Homo sapiens: one gene and its partners. The protein of the gene in region 1 purifies or fractionates together with the protein of each later gene. This does not show direct contact. Each region holds a gene or a part of one and is shown on either strand. Other genes may lie near its edges.

Region 1 (4,782 bases):
CGATTGCAGGCGCGCGCCGCCACGCCTGACTGGTTTTCGTATTTTTTTGGTGGAGACGGGGTTTCGCTGTGTTGGCCAGGCTGGTCTCCAGCTCCTAACCAGGAGTGATCTGCCAGCCTTGGCCTCCCGAGGTGCCGGGATTGCAGACGGAGTCTCGTTCACTCAGTGCTCAATGTTGCCCAGGCTGGAGTGCAGTGGCTTGATCTCAGCTCGCTACAACCTCCACCTCCCAGCCGCCTGCCTTGGCCTCCCAAAGTGCCGAGATTGCAGTCTCTGCCCGGCCGCCACCCCGTCTGGGAAATGAGGAGCGTCTCTGCCTGGCCGCCCATCGTCTGGGATGTGAGGAGCCCCTCTGCCCGGCTGCCCAGTCTGGGAAGTGAGGAGCGCCTCTTCCCGGCCGCCATCCCATCTAGGAAGTGAGGAGCGTCTCTGCCCGGCCGCCCATCGTCTGAGATGTGGGGAGCGCCTCTGCCCCACTGCCCCGTCTGGGATGTGAGGAGCGCCTCTGCCCGGCCGCGACCCCGTCTGGGAACTGAGGAGTGTCTCTGCCCGACCGCCACCCCGTCTGGGAGGTGAGGAGTGTCTCTGCCTGCCCGCCCCGAGAAGTGAGGAGCCCCTCCGCCCGGCAGCCACCCCATCTGAGAAGTGAGGAGCCCCTCTGCCTGGCAGCCACCCCGTCTGAGAAGTGAGGAGCCCCTCCGCCCAGCAGACACCCCGTCTGGGAAGTGAGGAGCGTCTCCGCCCGGCAGCCACCCCGTCCGGCAGCCACCCCGTCCGGGAGGGAGGTTGGGGGCAGCCCCCGCCCGGCCAGCCGCCCCGTCCGGGAGGGAGGTGGGGGTCAGCCCCCGCCCGGCCAGCCGCCCCGTCCGGGAGGTGAGGGGCGCCTCTGCCCGGCCGCCCGTACTGGGAAGTGAGGAGCCCCTCTGCCCGGCCACCACCCCGTCTGGGAGGTGTACCCAACAGCTCATTGAGAACAGGCCATGATGACGATGGCAGTTTTGTGGAATAGAAAAGGGGGAAAGGTGGGGAAAAGATTGAGAAATCGGATGGTTGCTGTGTCTGTGTAGAAAGAAGTAGACATGGGAGACTTCATTTCGTTCTGTACTAAGAAAAATTCTTCTGCCTTGGGATGCTGTTGATCTATGACCTTACCCCCAACCCTGTGCTCTCTGAAACATGTGCTGTATCCACTCAGGGTTAAATGGATTAAGGGCGGTGCAAGATGTGCTTTGTTAAACAGATGCTTGAAGGCAGCATGCTCCTTAAGAGTCATCACCACTCCCTAATCTCAAGTACCCAGGGACACAAACACTGCGGAAGGCCGCAGGGTCCTCTGCCTAGGAAAACCAGAGACCTTTGTTCACTTGTTTATCTGCTGACCTTCCCTCCACTATTGTCCTATGACCCTGCCAAATCCCCCTCTGCGAGAAACACCCAAGAATGATCAATAAAAAAAATAAAATAAAATAAAATAAATACAAGAATTAGCCAGGCGTGATGGTGGGCGCCTATAATCCCAGCTACTTGGGAGGCTGAGACAGGAGAATCATTTGTACCCAGGAGGTGGAGGTTGCAGTGAGCCAAGATCGTGCCACTATACTCCAGCCTGGGCAACAGAGTGAGACTCCGCCTCAAAAAAAAAAAAAAAAACTATTTTATTAAGGAACACCTCTGCTGCTGGACAATACTCTACCAAGTGCTAGAAATACGCAGGTCTCCAGCTACTCAGGAGGAGGTTGAGGCAGGAGAATCACTTGAGCCCAGGCGTTCAAATCCAGCCTGGCCAACATGATGATACCCCTGTTTCTAAAAGAAAATTTTTTAATTAAAAAAATTTTAAAAAGAGGGTGTGGTAGCTCAGGCCTGTAATCCCAGCACTTTGGGAGACGGAGGTAGGAGGATCATCTGAGTCCAGGCGTTTGAGACCAGCTTCATCAACATGGCGAGACCCCCATCTCCACAAAAAGTTATAAAAATAAAAATAAATGAGCCAGGCATGGCGGTGCACACCTGTGGTCCCAGCTACTGCAGGAGGTGAGGCATGAGGATCACTTGAGCCCTGAGCCCGGGAGGTCAAGGCTGCAGTGAGCTGTGTTTGTGTCACTGCACTCCAGCCTGGGCGACAGTGAGGCCCTGTCTCAAAAAAACAAAAACAAAAATAAATATGCAGTTGTCCAAGACTCACGGTCAGGCCTAGGCATGAACCTCACCAAAAGCCTTTTTCTCTAGCTTACCAGCAAAACAGAATAAGGCTAAACTAGCTCAAGCCGCCTCACCCTCCAAGCACCTTCAGATCTCCCTGGACAGAGACACACCCTCCTTTTCACCCCGGAACTTGTTGGTATAAAACCCTGGAATAAATGGCACATGAGCCAATCGCTCCATAACTCCATCTCATCCCCAGAAACACAGTGGGAACCCAAATTCCCAGAAAGAGAGTAAAAGGATGAAACTCTCCTAGGTGCGTTCAGTTCCTCATACTCACCTAAAATGCTTGGTCACACGTCCCGACAGGTAGCAGAATGAGGGTGACCCCATATTCCTCTTACAGATGAGGGAATTCACACAGAAAGGGTATGTGGTGTCAGTGGCCAGGTCTAGGCCACCAGGAGGCAAGACAGAACCCCAGCCTCCTCCTCCCTACACAGCGCCGCCTCCCTCTGACTAATGCGACACTTCTCAATGAGCTAGAATCAAAAGTTGTAGGAATTCACAATTCCCACACCCAAAGGACCTCACTAGCATATACCATCGCCCTCAATTTTCCCCCAGCTCCTGTCTTCCCTCCTTTCTCACCATCAGCATTTTCTTTTACAGCATCTACCAGCTGGGCGCGGTGGCTCATGCCTGTAATCCCAGAACTTTGGGAGGCCCAGGCGGGCGGATAACAAAGTCAAGAGTTCGAGACCAGCCTGGCCAACATGGTGAAACCCCGTCTCTACTAAAAAGACAAAAATTAGCCGGGTGTGGTGGTGCGCACCTGTAGTTCCAGCTACTTGGGAGGCTGAGGCAGGAAAATTGCTTGAACCCAGGAGGCAAAGGCTACAGTGAGCCGAGATCGCACCACTGTACTCCAGCCTGGGGACAGAGCGAGACTCCATCACACACACACAAAAATAATTTAAAAAATAAAGCATCTACCTGTGGCTGTGAAAGACATGGCAGTTCCACTCACTCCCACTCTGGTGTTGAGACAGCAAATTTCAAAAGAGAGGAGCACCGCTCTGGGGCAGCACCTAAGAGCACAGCCTTCTCCATCCCATCCCAGAGCCTGGACACAGTCACCTCACCCCATTTTATCAGTGGTGACAGGGGCTGTTTCCCAGGCCTTCTCACTCTGAAATTTATCTCTAGATTTCAGGCAACAAACTGTGGCCAGCTACAGGAACATTCTAGAAAAAAAGTGGGGACAAAAGCAATAACCATGGTAATGTGCACTCGTTAAAGGGCCTCCTGAAAAAGAGACAGGGAGACCAGCACCGAGGGAAGGAAAAAGGGGTGGCAGGAGAGGGAAGAGACGAGACAGTCAAAAAGGAGAAACCCAAAATATAATTAAGCAGTGGCTCACACCTGTAATCCCAGCAGTTTGGGAGGCTGAGGCAGCCAGGTCACCTGAGGTCAGGAGTTCAAGACCAGCCTGGCCAACATGGTGAAACCCCATCTCTACTAAAAATACAAAAATTAGCCAGGCATGGTGGCGGGCACCTGTAGTACCAGCTACCTGGGAGGCTGAGGCAGGATAATCACTTGAACCTGGGAGACAGAGGCTGCAGTGAGCCAAGATCGCACCACTGCACTCCAGCCTGGGGGACAGAGTGAGACTCCATCTCAAAAAAAAAAAAAAAAAGAAAAAAGAAAAAGAGAAGCAGTCAAGGGAAAAAAATGGGTTCGGGTTTGTCCATCGTTTCTGACCTATGTAAATTGATGGTAATTAACTAACAGCAGCCAGGCGCCCGTCCCAGCCCCAATATTTTAGTATTTTCTACAGAGAGGCCTGACCTTCAGAGCTATCTCAAGGGGTGGCCTCCTAGAGCCCCCTGCAATGGTCACTCTTGGTTCCTAGTGTCTGTGACCCAGCAACCCTGACCTGCACCCTGAGAAGAGGCAACAGCACTGATGAGGCTGAGCCTGGTGGTCTCCAGACTCCCAAGAGAAACCGTAAGAAACTGTAAGACCCCTTTCCCAGCAGTGACAGACAAGGCAAGCCTGCAGCACCTGCTGCCTTCATATCTGGGAAACGGTTAGTGGGTCCCTCATATAAAAACAATGTTTTACGTCCCTTTTAAAACTCATTTTTAAGGCCGGGTGTGGTGGCTCACGCCTGTAATCCCAGCACTTTGCGAGGCCGAGGCGGGTGGATTGCCTGAGCTCAGGAGTTTGAGACCAGCCTGGGCAACACGGTGAAACCCCGTCTCTACTAAAATACATAAAATTAGCCGGGTATGGTGGTGTGCGCCTGTAATCCCAGCTACTCGGGAGGCTGAGGCAGGAAACAATTGTTTGAACTCAGAAGGCGGAGGTTGCAGTGAGCCGAGATCGCGCCACTGCACTCCAACCTGGTGACAGAGCAAGACTGTCTCAAAAAATTTTTAAAAATAAAAAATAAATTAAAATTAAAATTAAAAAAAAAAACAGGCAAGGAGAAGAGGCCGGAGAGGTTTGACTTTTCACAAATCATTAATTAAACAACTATCTACTACTGAGTGTTTACACCAGGTGCTGGACATCTTTAGGTCAGCGTGTACGGCAGTAACATCTTCAACGCGTAGCTGCAGACAGACT
Region 2 (4,782 bases), on another chromosome or scaffold:
AATCTGGGAGACAGAGGGTGCAGTGAGCTGAGATCCCGCCACTGCACTCGAGCCTGGGTGACAGAGAAAGACTCCGTCTCAAGGAAAAAAAAAAAAAAAAAAGACATGAATGGATATTTTAGAACTGAGAAATATAAGAAAAATGAAATTAAGAACTCAGTAGATGGGTTTAGCAGCAAAAGTAATAAATGAATTGCAAGACAGATCAGTATAAAATATCTAGTCTGAAACACAAAGAAAAAAGCATGAGAGACACAAGAACTGGAGATATATAGAGCACTATGAAAAGTTCTAACATTCAGATTACTGAAGTCTCAGAGCAGATAGAGAAAAAATGGGACAGAAACAATAGTTGAAGATATAATGTCTGAGAAATTTCCAAAATTGATCAGACATCAACCCAGAAATTCAAGAAGCTAAATGCCAAGCAAGAAAAGAAAAAGAAACCCATACTAAGTACACCATAGTAAAACTACTGAAAACCAAAAAGAAAAAAATCTTTAAAGCAGCCAGGTGAAGGCAAAATCACCTTCAAAGGAACAACAAAGGACCAGATAGCGACTTTTCAACAGAAATGGTATAAGCCAGAAAACAAAGAATTACATCTTTAAAGTCCTTAAACAGACTCCTGTATGCACTTGATAGAAGACAGAATTAGTGAACTTTGTACAAAACAGCTATAAAGTTCTCCCCAAATATAGCATATATATAAAAATATGAAAGACAGATTAAGAGATAATATCATGATATGATCCAACTTACATTTAATCAGTTACAGAAGAAACAGACAATGCTGAAAGAAAAAATCATTTAATTTTCCACAATTGATTAAGGATACCATTGTACAAATTCAAGAATCCAAAAAAGTCTCAAACAGGAAAAGAAAAAACCTACAAACAAACCACCTAGTGTGCCAGTCACGTTTCTATTCTCAGCTGCAAGCTCATCCTTGTAGTCTCTACTGTTCTACTGTAGCTGCCACTCTGTAAACTACATTTCCCAGATTCCCTTATCAGCTGGCTTCCTGTTAGGGTCTACCAATGGAAGCCACTAGAGGGAGATTAGACGGCAGTAGATAGCAATTGCCCTAGACCCAGTGGTTTTTTGCATGAGACAATTTTATATATTAAGCCCCTGAGATTTAAGGATTATTACTACAGAAAAAGCCCATCCTATCCTAATAAAATATGCAAAAAATTAAAAGTAGAACTTTACACTTCATACCACGTATAAAGATAAACCTAAATGACAAAGACTATATAGCTTTCAGAAGAGAACACAGGAAACATCCTCATGATCTTGGGGTATAGAAGGATTTCTCAAATAAGACATAAAAAACATAAATCAAAAAGAAAAAGCTTGATAGATTTGACATAAAAATTAAAAGCTCCTGTTTATCAAAAGACAGAACTAAAATAGTGAAAAGACAAGCCACAGAAGATATTTGCAAAATATATAACAAAGAACTTGTGTACATATTTTAAAATTTGTATGAATAAGAACACTTGAAGAAACCTAATAACTAATAAACATGAAAAGTTGTTCAACATTATCAGTAATGTTCAAATAGACACTATACATGTACTGTCTTAGGTAGAGCTGCTATAATAAAATACCATACATTGAATTAAAAACATTTATTTCTCATGGTTATGGGAACTGGAAAGTCCGAGATCAAGATGCTAGTAGGTTTGTTTCTGGTAAGGGCCCCCTGGTTCATAGACAGGCATCTTCTTGCTGTGTGTTCGCATGGCAGAAAGAGGGCTGGGATCTCTTCATAAGGGCACTAATCCCACTCACGTGGGCTCCATGCTTACGACCTCCCAAGGGCTCCGCATCCTAATATCATCACATTGGGGGTTAAGATTTCAACATATGGGCCGGGCGCGGTGGCTCACGCCTGTAATCCCAGCACTTTGGGAGGCCGAGGCGGGCGGATCACGAGGTCAGGAGATCGAGACCATCCCGGCTAAAACGGTGAAACCCCGTCTCTACTAAAAATACAAAAAATTAGCCGGGCGTAGTGGCGGGCGCCTGTAGTCCCAGCTACTTGGGAGGCTGAGGCAGGAGAATGGCGTGAACCCGGGAGGCGGAGCTTGCAGTGAGCCGAGATCCCGCCACTGCACTCCAGCCTGGGCGACAGAGCGAGACTCCGTCTCAAAAAAAAAAAAAAAAAAAAAGATTTCAACATATGAATCTGGTGGGGGGACACAAACATTTAGTCCGTAACATGTACCAAGCTAGCTAAAATTCAAAAGTATGAAAATACTAAATACTGGAAAAGATTGGGGTAATAACTCTCATTTACTCCTGGTGAGAATGTGTATAACCACCTTGGAATACATTATTTAGTAAAGTTGGAACACCATTAAGACTCCACATTTCCACTCCTAGATATATATCCTACAGAAATATGTGTTTATATGTGCACCAGGAATCATGTATAAAAATGTTTATCACAGCATTATTCACAATATACAAAGACTGAAATCAATTCCAGTGTTTATCAGCAGCATGCTGCCTGTATTATGGTACAGTCCTACAATAAGCATTAACAAAACTGAATGTACTATAAAGATTAAAACAAATTACAGCTACACAAGCAACACGGATGAATCTTAAAACAATGTTGAACAAAAGAAGCCACATACCCAAAAATATTTACTCTCATTCTATTAGTAAAAGTTCAAAATCAGGGAAAACAGAATAACTACTTATTTAGGGATCTAATCATAGATGGTAAAACTATAAAGACAAGCAAAGGAATGAGTACCACACATCATGAGACAATGATTTATCTCCAAAGTGCTGGGGGCAGTGAAGGAGATGTGATCTAGGAGGGGTTCCCAAGGGGCTCCTGAGGTACTGACTTGAAAACGTTCTCTTTTCTAACTTGGTGTTGACACAGGTGCTCCTGCTCACCTTCATATTTTTTTAAGTATACATCTGTGTATCATGAACAATTCTTATCTCAAAATTTAAAAATGAAGTACACATTATAACAGCATTACAATCATGAACACATGTGCTATGTTCTCTGGGAGACAAAGAGAAACTATTTACCCTACTTTCCAGAAAAGGACACTGACACTTAGAGGGAACACAAGTGTTGAAACCAGGTCTGAAATCCAAGACCCAAGATGCTTTTTTGCTGCTAAAGCATTCATTATCCAGACTCTGCCTGCATGAAGGTGATGCATAGGAAATGATGAACCTGGTAAAAGCTTCCAGTCTTAAAAATACTCCAAGTAAGGCTCTTTAAGGCTTCTGGTAGGGACATTTTATTTTTTGGTAAAGCCACAATAGATAGAAATGCCATAAAAACAAACATGTAAACAAGGTATCAGAACTTTGGTTCACTGAAACATCTCACACCTAAAACACCTGAGGTACAAAGGCACCTTGCTAGGCGCTAGACAGCTAACTCTGCTGCAGCCACTTTGATCCTAGCCTTGGGGCCAGGGATGGCACAGGCTGAATGGAAGGGCTGGGACTTCAGTCACACAGGAGTCGCCCTAGTATGGTCTCCCTCTGCTCCAGACAAACATTCATTTCTCCAAAAATCAGCCTGATAGGAACATACAAAGGAACATACAAAGGTGTCTGTCACGTTGACATGGGCTGAAGGACCAGGAAGGGGAAGGACAGAAAAGGATGTCAGTCAACTTCTGTTGATCCACAAGGTCTCAAGAACTCCTGTCCTCGTTCATGGAACCACTTATTGGAGACTGTGAAAAGAAAGCAAGCATGTTACAATCCTATTGGTCAGTTTAGTAGCCTGAATGAATGACTCCTTCATGATGACCCCCTGCACTGTGCCCTGGAATCAGACACAAATAAGACAAGACATGATCTCAGGCCTCAATTTGCTGAAGAATTGGTAAGGAAGACACATGTAAACAGATAATTGTATGAAATTCTGCCAGTGGGACAAGATACATGTGTGCAGGTTGCCATGGGAATAGCACCCAAGGGCATCTAATCATGCCCTTTCATGCCCATGACCTTTGATGCCCTTTGGCTCTATTCCCATGGCAACCTGCACACATGTTTCTTGCTCTTAGAGGGAAGAGGAAATCCTAGGGCTAGAATATAAAGCTACATAGAAGTTATCCTGGGAAGAAGATGGGCATACCCAGATGGTTCTCTCACCAAGAGGGTCCCAGGAGTGACAACAGGATGAGAAAGTAATCAAGGCAGAAGCCACCCTGACGTGTGTTGGGGACTCAAGAGGCCTAATATTACTGGGAGGTGGCAGGTAGAAACTGAGAGGTAGGGTGTGAGGATGAGGAAGACTGTCAGCATTGCAGAGGGCTTGGACATTAACCTCAGGAGCCGTGGACCAGCAGATCCAGTCTGTATGCCATGGGCACAAGAGCAACAGAGCTGCTGCCAGCACTATCACCCCACGCCATATCTTCAAACACACAGGAACCATGATTCTGTTCCTCACAGACTCTCTCATAATGAATAAAAATTTTATTTCAATGCACTACTGAAGTCACAGAGCTTTTAAAATATAAAGTAATAACATGTACTTCATTGAAAAAAATAAAATTGTCGCAAGGCTTATAATGATAAATAGCACTCCTCCTAAGCCTCTCCTTCCCATCCCTAATCTCCACTCCCAGGGAACATTAAACTCCTCTAGCTGTTTCTTCTGATATTTAACCTCATTTTTCTAGATAAGATGCTTATAGTTCTATTCCTTGACTTTCAACTTTGGAATTCTTTTATTCTACCCCTAAAACACAAACTCATCCCCTCCCACCTTTCCAGTAC
Region 3 (4,782 bases), on another chromosome or scaffold:
GTAGCTGGGACTACAGGTGTGTGCCAACACACCTGGCAACTCTGTATGTGTTTGTGTGTGTGTGTGTGTGTGTGTGTGTGTGTGTGTGTGTGGAGAGACAGTCTTGGTATGTTGTCCAGACTGATCTTGAACTCTTGGGCTCAAGTGATCCTCCCACCTCAGCCTCCCAAAGTGCTGGGATTACAGGTGAGAGCCACTGTGCCCAGCCTGTTTATCAAGATTTTTTTTTTTTTTTGAGATGGAGCCTTGCTCTGTGGCCCAGGCTGGAGTGCAATGGCGCAATCTCAGCTGACTGCAACCTCCACCTCGGGTTTCAAGTGATTCTCCTGCCTCAGCCTCCCGAGTAGCTAGGATTACAGGCACAGGCCACCATGCCCAGCTAATTTTTTTATTTTTAGTAGAGATAGGTTCTCACCATGTTGGCCAGGCTGGTCTTGAACTCCTGACCTCAGATGATCTGCCTGTCTCAGCCATCCAAAGTGCTGGGATAACAGGCGTGAGCCACCTCACCCAGCCTATTTATCAAGATTTTAAAATGACATTAATTGCCCTAGTTATTATACTTTTAGGAATTTAGCCTACATATATATTTACATGAGTGTTCACAGTAACAAGGATGTTCACTGCAGCATTGCTTGCGTTATCCAAAAAGCAAAGTGATGTGGTAAGGGATAATCTAAATGTCCACTGATAGAGGGCTGAATAAAGAAATCCATATAATAAGTTATTATGCAGCCATGAAAAAGTGAGGCATTCTCTATGGACTCTTATGGAACAATCTCAAAATCTACTGTTATATGGAAAAGAAATCTAAGTGCAGAACAGAAGACAGCATGTTTTATTTTGTTGATGAGTCTAGATGCTTGTAAATGTACAGACTATTTCTAGAAGGATATACAAGACACAGAATTCTAATTGTCTTTTGAAAAGAGGTCTCAGGGACTAGCAGTCTGAGGGTCTGAGGTGGAAGAGAAACTTCCTTTTCACTGAATGTCTTTTGGAGGTATCCAAATATTTTAGCATGGTAAAATATTTGGATATTTTACATATCCAAAGTGTATGTAATACTCTTTGACACTAAAAGAAAAAAAAAACTAGTTAAAAAATGTAAAAAAATATTGCAGTACAATTTATACATTACAGCTAAAATGCTCGTATTTCTTTCACATTTGGCTTTTAATTTAGTTTAATTTAATTTTTATTTTTTGAGATGGAGTTTCTTTCTTGTTGACCAGGCTGGAGTGTAATGGCGTGGTCTTAGCTCACTGTAACCTCCGCCTCCCGGGTTCAAGCGATTTTCCTGCCTCAGCCTCCCAAGTAGCTGGGATTACAGGCGCCTGCCACCATGCCTGGCTAAATTTTTTTGTATTTTTAGTAGAGTCGGGGTTTCACCATATTGGCCAGGGTGATCTCGAACTCCTGACCTCAAGTGATCCACTCACCTCAGCCTCCCAAACTGCTGGGATTACAGGTGTGATCCACCATGCCCGGCCACATTTGGCTTTTCAAATATACTCTCTTATATGATTCCATTTATAGAAAACTAGAAAATAATCTATAATTCGAGAAAGTAGTCAGCGGCTGCCTGAAGGTGGGGCATGGGGAGGAGAGGGAGACAGGGAGACGCAGGAGAGAGGGAATGCAAAGAGGCAGAAGGAACGTTTTGGTTGTGATGGAAGGTTCATTATCTTGGTATAAACATACATGAAGACTTATCAGTGTACACTGTAGGTTTTATTTTTAATTGATAAATAATAATTGTACATATTTACAGGATACAATGTAATGTTTTGATATATGTTTACATTGTGGAATGAGTATATCAAGCTAATTAACATATCCTCACATACTATTTTTTTGTTGTGGGAACATTTACATTGTATACTTTATATGTAATTTATGTTAACCACACCTCAATAAAGCTGTTATTAAAAAATACCATTACTCCTCATCTTTGAAATGACTTGTCTCTAGCATTAATTAGATAAACCTCTGGTTCCTCTGCTCATCCTTGAAATGTGGAGTTTATATTTTATTTTATTCAAAACTGAGTTTTTAAAATGTCACATAGATTTCTGAAACTGGATGAGTTAAAAGTATCTAGACCTGCCTGTAATCCCAGCACTTTGGGAGGCCGAGGCAGGCAGATCATGAGGTCAGGAGTTTGAGACCAGCCTGACGAACGAGGTGAAACCCCGTCTCTACTAAAAACACAAAAATTAGCCAGGTGTGGTGGCGGGCGCCTGTAGTCCCAGCTACTCAGCAGGCTGAGGCAAGAGAATGGCTTGAACCCGGGAGGCAGAGGTTGCAGTGAGCCGAGATCACACCACTGCACTCCAGACTGGGTGACAGAGTGAGATTCTCTCTCTCAAAAAAAAAAAAAAAAGTATCTAGACGTAGAAAGATATTATTTCTAACTATATGGGAATCTTTGAGATATCATACGACTGTGTGCATTTCATTCAGGATTGTGTTTTGGAATACTGCATTCTATTCGTATTTTGTCCCTCTCTGTTTTCCTTAGTTGTATATGTAGCTAGGATAGGGAACTTTCAGTGTCATTGGAAATATATATTATTTTATTGCTAATGAAGGTCCTGTACTCCCTTCAGAACATTTCTAAGCTCATGATTATGACCAAAATGTTCTGAGCTCAGGAAGAAGAGAATTGTGCCTTTCAGAAACTTTGAAAGCATTTCATTTCATTTGGCAATTGTTCAGCAAACTATTAAACATTGGGTAAGCTTTCAAAGTCCAACAATGTCTATATTCTTATTTTATTTCTCATCTGTGGAAATCAAAAATTCTCCTAGACTCACAATTTGTACTTAAAGTCTCTATTATTGAGTTCCAAATAATGAAACAAATGTCTGTTTAAAATACCTTAACGATTTTTTCCTCTACAACCTTATTTCCTCCGATATCTGATAGCCAAAGGGTAACTGATTTCCTCAGGGTAGTGAGATATTAAATAATCTTTCTTTTTTATTGTTCTTTATTATTATTTATTTGAGACAGGTCTTGCTCTATCACCCTGGCTGGAGTGCAGTGGCATAATCACGGCTCAGGCTTACTGCAGCCTTGACCTCCTGGGCTCAGGTGATCCACTCACTTCAGCCTCCCAAGTAGCTAGGACTACAAACACATGCCACCACACTCAGCTAATGTTTGTATTTTTTGTAGAGATGAGGTTTTGCCATGTGGCCTAGGCTCGTCTTGAACTCCTGAGCTCAAGCGATCTGCGTGCATTGACTTCCCGAAGTGCTGGGATTATAGGCACAAGCCACCATGCCCAGCCTGTTTTCTTGTTTACATTTATTTATTTATTTATTTAGACAGTTTCGCTCTTGTTTCCCAGCCTGGAGTGCAATGGCACAATCTCAGCTCACCGCAACCTCTGCCTCCTGGGTTCAAGCAATTCTCCTGCCTCAGCCTCCTGAGTAGCTGGGATTACAGGCATGCGCCACCACAGCTGGCTAATTTTGTATTTTTAGTAAAGACAGGGTTTCTCCATGTTGGTCAGTTTGGTCTCAAACTCCCGACTTCAAGTGATCCGCTCATCTCAGCCTCCCAAAGTGCTGGGATTACAGGCTTGAGCCACCGCACCCGGCCTTGTTTATATACTTATAAGAATAAATATTAAATTCTTACAAAGTTGTTATTAAATACAAATAATACAAATCTTTATGAACGAATCGATAATTTTTTGCAACTCTGCACATTTATTTCACTTTTAATGACAGAATAGGGATTGTTTAGAAAGATGCTCTTACATAAGGGAATATTATGCCCTCTGAGTTTTGTACCTTCTAATTTTATAAAGATCTGAGTTAAAAAAAAAAAACAAACTCCAAAAATAAAGTTTATCTTTTGGTGTGTGCAATGCTGCCTAAACCCAACCTCCACCCTCAGCCCATGACCCTCCCTGCTTACCACCCTGCCTTCAGCCCACTGACATGGTACCTCAGGTCTCACACCTGAAGTTCTGAAGTCCTGGCTAGTGTAATTTGCAGCACTAGTTACTCCTCTTTATTTATTTATTTTTTAATAGACAGGGTCTCACTCTGTTGTATTATTTGCCACTGCCGGATTATTTGCCATAATCCAACTCCTGGGCTCAAGTAATCCACCACAAAGTGCTGGGATCACAGGTGTGAGCCACCACCACCCCATCTAGTTACTCCTCTTGACTCTACCACCTCCCCTTGAATATTCAGTATCTAGAACTACACTGGCCGATGACAGACATTCAACCAATTCCTCTTCCTCCTTCAGCCTAGCTCCCTCCTGCTAGGCCTGCTAGGCCTCATCAGCCTGTGTCCTGCCGCTACTATATCCCAGGGAAGGAGCAGAAGAGGCAGAGCCACCACCAGTACAACCAGTGATGAACCAAGCCTCACAGAGGAGACAGGCTTTGAGAGGAGCTCGCAAGAAAAATTCCCAGGCAAGGAGAAGAGCTCGTCACTATTTCATAGTCCGCCTGAAATGTGAGGAGGGATCTGCTTGTTAGTCCCATGAATTGGCTCCTCTATAAAAGGGTATCAAGCCCATATGTAATAAAGTCAGAAGATATATCTACCTCGTTAACTCTTACCTTGAGGGGAACATGCAGTCATTTTCCCGGTACAGTCTGTTCTTAGTGATCTGATAGTGGGTCCCTAGCTTCCGTCTGACTACCTCTGCCATCATCTTCCTGGAGATGCCTCCTCGGAAAGGAGTTAGATCCTCTTCTATGACACTGGGAAAGAATGGGAGTCATCAAGGAAAGCAGGCCAAGAGAGT
Region 4 (4,782 bases), on another chromosome or scaffold:
CCGGGAGGGAGGTGGGGGGGTCAGCCCCCTGCCCGGCCAGCTGCCCCGTCTGGGAGGTGAGGGGCGCCTCTGCCCGGCCGCCCCTACTGGGAAGTGAGGAGCCCCTCTGCCCGGCCAGCCGCCCCGTCCGGGAGGGAGGTGGGGGGGGTCAGCCCCCCGCCCGGCCAGCCACCCCGTCCGGGGGGGGGGGTCAGCCCCCCCACCTGGCCAGCCGCCCCGTCTGGGAGGTGAGGGGCGCCTCTGCCCGGCCGCCCCTACTGGGAAGTGAGGAGCCCCTCTGCCCGGCCAGCCGCCCCGTCCGGGAGGGAGGTGGGGGGGTCAGCCCCCCACCCGGCCAGCCGCCCCGTCCGGGAGGGAGGTGGGGGGGTCAGCCCCCAGCCTGGCCAGCTGCCCCGTCTGGGAGGGAGGTGGAGGGGTCAGCCCCCTGCCCGGCCAGCCGCCCCGTCCGGGAGGTGAGGGGCGCCTCTGCCCGGCCGCCCCTACTGGGAAGTGAGGAGCCCCTCTGCCTGGCCACCACCCCGTCTGGGAGGTGTGCCCAACAGTTCATTGAGAATGGGCCAGGATGACAATGGCGGCTTTGTGGAATAGAAAGGCGGGAAAGGTGGGGAGAAGATTGAGAAATCGGATGGTTGCCGTGTCTGTGTAGAAAGAAGTAGACATGGGAGACTTTTCATTTTGTTCTGCACTAAGAAAAATTCTTCTGCCTTGGGATCTTGTTGGTCTGTGACCTTACCCCCAACCCTGTGCTCTCTGAAACGTGTGCTGTGTCCACTCAGGGTTAAATGGATTAAGGGTGGTGCAAGATGTGCTTTGCTAAACAGATGCTTGAAGGCAGCATGCTCGTTAAGAGTCATCACCACTCCCTAATCTCAAGTAATCAGGGACAAACACTGCGGAAGGCCGCAGGGTCCTCTGCCTAGGAAAACCAGAGACCTTTGTTCACTTGTTTATCTGCTGACCTTCCCTCCACTATTGTCCCATGACCCTGCCAAATCCCCCTCTGTGAGAAACACCCAAGAATTATCAATAAAAAAATAAATTAAAAAAAAAAAAAAGAATAGTTGTATTAATGGGAAAAACTAGGGTTTGGCAGTGGATTCCTCTTGATGCAAGTGTCACAACATGATTTGCTATTATACTGATTTTTAAAACTATTAGTCTGTTCTCACATTGCTATAAAGAACTACCTGAGACTGGGTAATTCATAAAGAAAAGAGGTTTAATTGACTGGCAGTTCTGCAGGTTGTACAGGAAACTTGTCTGGGGAGGCCTCAGGAGACTTACAAGTATGATAGAAGTCAAAGGGGAAGCAGACATGTCTTTCATGGCCGGAGAAGGAAGAAGAGAGAAGGGGGAGGTGTTACATATTTTTAAACAACCAGATCTTGTGAGAACTCACTCTCTGTCACAGGAACAGCAAGGGAAGTCTGCCCTTGTGATCCAGTCACCTCCCACAAGGCCCCTCTTCCACCATTGAAAATTACAATTTGATATGAGATTTGGGCAAGGACAGAAATTTAAACCATATTATATATCAAGTCATGAACAGTGTCCAGGAAAAGATATTGACAGCCTATCACTTGATAAAGTGGCAGAATTAATCTATGTTATCCCTCTGAGCATCACATGCTGATAGTTACCTGAGAGCTATAATTCCATTCCAAGTTCTAGGTTAGTGTACTCAGATTTCTGTCATTCCCTTAAAATACATTTTTACTTACTGCTAGTGCATATATTTGAAATTTTACAGACTTTAAAATTTATTGAACATAAGCCATAAAGTCATCAAGGAACCCCTTTAGTTATGTATATAAATGTAGAAATAAGCCTTTGGGAATAGTGAGTTAAAACTACAAGCTCTTGGGAAGACATTACCTTATTCATGTTGGGCAGAGATGTAAGAATGAAATAAGTCATGTAGTTACCCTTCTATTACTGTTTTTTTTTTATACATGTGTACACAAAGCAAGTTTCCCAATATAACTCCTAAAAATAGAGTGTGCCACCAGGCACACACCCTTACTGTGTCCTAAAATACATGAATTTCTCCTATTCCATTTTTGGCTTGGAGCAAGTGAGTTGACTGCCATTCTTTGAAAAAGCTGTCATTGAATAGTTTAATACAGTGCTTTAATTGTGATACATACCAGTAATAGTGCCATAAACATGGGAATCTGGGTCAGAAAAGGAAGTAAACCCATTATAGCTATTTCAGAGTTGTCTGTTTCTTTTCATTTGCAGATTTTTTAAAGGCATTATTCCTATAGGTTGATTGATATTTGCAGATTTGTATATATATGTTAAAGTGTGTATGTGGAAATATGTGTAAGTGTATATGTTAAGTGTTTATATATATAAAAAGTGGCGCATGGGAGGTAGGCATTCAGGGCCTTATAATTAGAAAATATCAAAGAAGATATATGTTTATTACCTAGGGCTTTATGTAAAATCAATGGTAGAGAGCACTTAAAATTGAAGCTTATATTTTTTGGTCTTTAACAATCATAGGTCTCCAGTAAATATAAAAAATGCTTCTTAGGGCAACTAAAACTAAGCAAGTAGTACGTGATAATGAGTCTGTACCATCCCTACCCCCTAGTCATCAACTTCCCCTTCAGAGAGATAATTTATTTTAGGTTTGGTCTTTATTCTTCCAAATCTTTTCCTTTTTTCTTTTTCTTTTTTTTTTTTTTTTGAGACACGGTCTGCCTCTGTCACCGAGGCTGGAGTGCAGTGGCACGATCACAGCTTACTCTGTAGCCTTGAGCTCCTGGGCTCAAGTAATCCTCCAGCCTCAGCCTCCCAAGTAGCTAGGACTACAGGCATTTACTGCCATACCTGGCTAATTTTTTATTTTTAAGAGACAGGGTCTCCCTGTGTTGCCCAGGCTGGTCTTGAACTCCTGGGCTCAAGCAGTCCTCTGGCCTTGGTCTCCCAAAGTGCTGGGATTACAGACTTTAGCCACTGTGCCTGGCCTCGTCCAAATCTTTTCTATGAGTTTACACACTTGCAGTCTTGAACAAAATTTTAAAGAGAAAGTACCTCAAGAAAGTGAGCATTGGTTCAAAAAACAAAAACAAACAACCCACCAGTATATATGAAAGTTATCACAGAGGAATAAAACATCCCTGTAGTACTTTTCATAATATATTCTTAATCTTAAAACATTAAATGTGACTCTTTTTAGAAATCTTGGGGGAGAAAATATGCCTACAGTGCTTATTTTCCTGCTTTTCCTGGTAATTGCCTAATATCTTGGTGAGAAGTACTGACTCCAGAACAAACCAGTGGAGAACAATAGAACTCCTCTGAGAGTTACTTAGCAGCTCACTCTATGATTTGAAAAAAATGATTGTTACATGACATTTCATCCATAAGAACAAGCCCATTTCTAGTTCTGGCACTGTATGACATGTTCTCTTTGAATCTCAGTTGGCATTAATGACTATGCTGGTAGTATTCATGTGTCCCTTGTGAGGCTGTGAACAATCTCCCATTACTTGCCTGCCAGAGCAGCCTTCGTGCTTTGGTGGGAGTCATTTCCAAATCTAATTTTCTGTTCATATTGCAATTTAAAGAACGTTTAGATAGAAAAAAAAGGGCCCAGGCTTCACAAAGAATTTCAATTTACATCAACGATTTGAACAAAAGCTTCAGATAATATAAGTGAAAATACTAAAATTGGGGCAGAGTTAAAGATGTTCTGGCATGTCATCAGTTGGGAAACAACCATGGCATAGTATAGAAAATTTCAGGAGTGAGACCTAGCTGTGTATGGAGAGAGCTCTATCACTGATTTCACTGGGACCTGGGGCGAGCTGCCTCATCTTCCTTGGAGTTAGTTACCTTATATTTAAAATCAGGAGAAAAGGGAAAAAAACTTCACTTTTGTAATAGTTTAAAATGTTACAATGGAACTATGAAACTGATAGTTCTGCATATCTTAAAAGGCAGTTAGAAACTCAGAAAAAAATCTGATTCCCAAATAGACTCTTCAGATAGTTTTATCTTCATGATCATGTCTCTGTGGTTCCACCTTTCTGAAAACAGTCTTCAGTAACTTAAGAAATCATTTCAACTTCCATGATCTTCAGTAGCAGCAGCATGAATGACACATGCCAAGAGACTAAATGGAATGAGATAAGCCTGTCTTTCAGAGACATCATCTATTTCCTGCTGCTGTCCAGACAGGAAAGTCAGACTCCATTTTTCCCCTTTGTAAAGTTGACTTGAGCTACATGAAGCACTTGTTAGAACAGTCCAATTCAAGATAATTGTGCTTTATGACTGCATTCAGAATCACATGTGTACCCACTGTGTGTGTGGGGGGTGTGTGTATGTGTGTGCATGTGTGTGGGTGGGTGGGTGGAGGGGGTGTGTGTGGGTAGGTGGGTGGTGGGGGTGTGTGTGTATGTGTGGGTGGGTGGGTGGTGGGGTGTGTGTAGGTGGGTTGGAGTGTGTGGGTTGAGGGTGTGTGTGTATGTGGGTGGGTGGGGGGATGTGTGTATGTGGGTGGGTGGGGGGATGTGTGTACGTGGGTGGGTGGGGATGTGTGTGTGTGTGTGATTGAGAGGGGAGGGAGATATAGACACACAGAGAGGGAGTATTTTGTTGCTATGTCTTTATGTTCTTTTTTAAGACGATTTCAAAGATGATACATCCTGTTGAGGCTGCTAAGAGCTGAATTAATAGAATTATTAGTGAATGTTTTTCTAAACCTGTTATCAGTATACACTTTACTCCTAAACTGTTATCAAGATGGTAAAAATTATAGACTCTATA

What was found.
Region 2: the proteins of ACADS (region 1) and P4HA2 fractionate together in Homo sapiens (co-fractionation; one large-scale study listed by BioGRID). This does not show direct contact.
Region 3: the proteins of ACADS (region 1) and POGLUT1 fractionate together in Homo sapiens (co-fractionation; one large-scale study listed by BioGRID). This does not show direct contact.
Region 4: the proteins of ACADS (region 1) and CLIC4 fractionate together in Homo sapiens (co-fractionation; one large-scale study listed by BioGRID). This does not show direct contact.

The regions. Positions count from the first base shown.
Region 1 is NC_000012.12:120,728,324-120,733,105, reverse strand, and holds part of ACADS (short-chain specific acyl-CoA dehydrogenase, mitochondrial isoform 1 precursor), read right to left. Parts: intron 1-4,782. UniProt on the Homo sapiens protein: Short-chain specific acyl-CoA dehydrogenase is one of the acyl-CoA dehydrogenases that catalyze the first step of mitochondrial fatty acid beta-oxidation, an aerobic process breaking down fatty acids into acetyl-CoA and allowing the production of energy from fats.
Region 2 is NC_000005.10:132,189,353-132,194,134, forward strand, and holds the end of P4HA2 (prolyl 4-hydroxylase subunit alpha-2 isoform 2 precursor), read right to left. Parts: intron 3,729-4,782; coding exon 3,658-3,728; 3' UTR 795-3,657; downstream 1-794. UniProt on the Homo sapiens protein: Catalyzes the post-translational formation of 4-hydroxyproline in -Xaa-Pro-Gly- sequences in collagens and other proteins.
Region 3 is NC_000003.12:119,471,265-119,476,046, reverse strand, and holds part of POGLUT1 (protein O-glucosyltransferase 1 precursor), read right to left. Parts: intron 4,739-4,782; coding exon 4,595-4,738; intron 1-4,594. UniProt on the Homo sapiens protein: Dual specificity glycosyltransferase that catalyzes the transfer of glucose and xylose from UDP-glucose and UDP-xylose, respectively, to a serine residue found in the consensus sequence of C-X-S-X-P-C.
Region 4 is NC_000001.11:24,800,033-24,804,814, forward strand, and holds part of CLIC4 (chloride intracellular channel protein 4), read left to right. Parts: intron 1-4,782. UniProt on the Homo sapiens protein: In the soluble state, catalyzes glutaredoxin-like thiol disulfide exchange reactions with reduced glutathione as electron donor. Can insert into membranes and form voltage-dependent multi-ion conductive channels.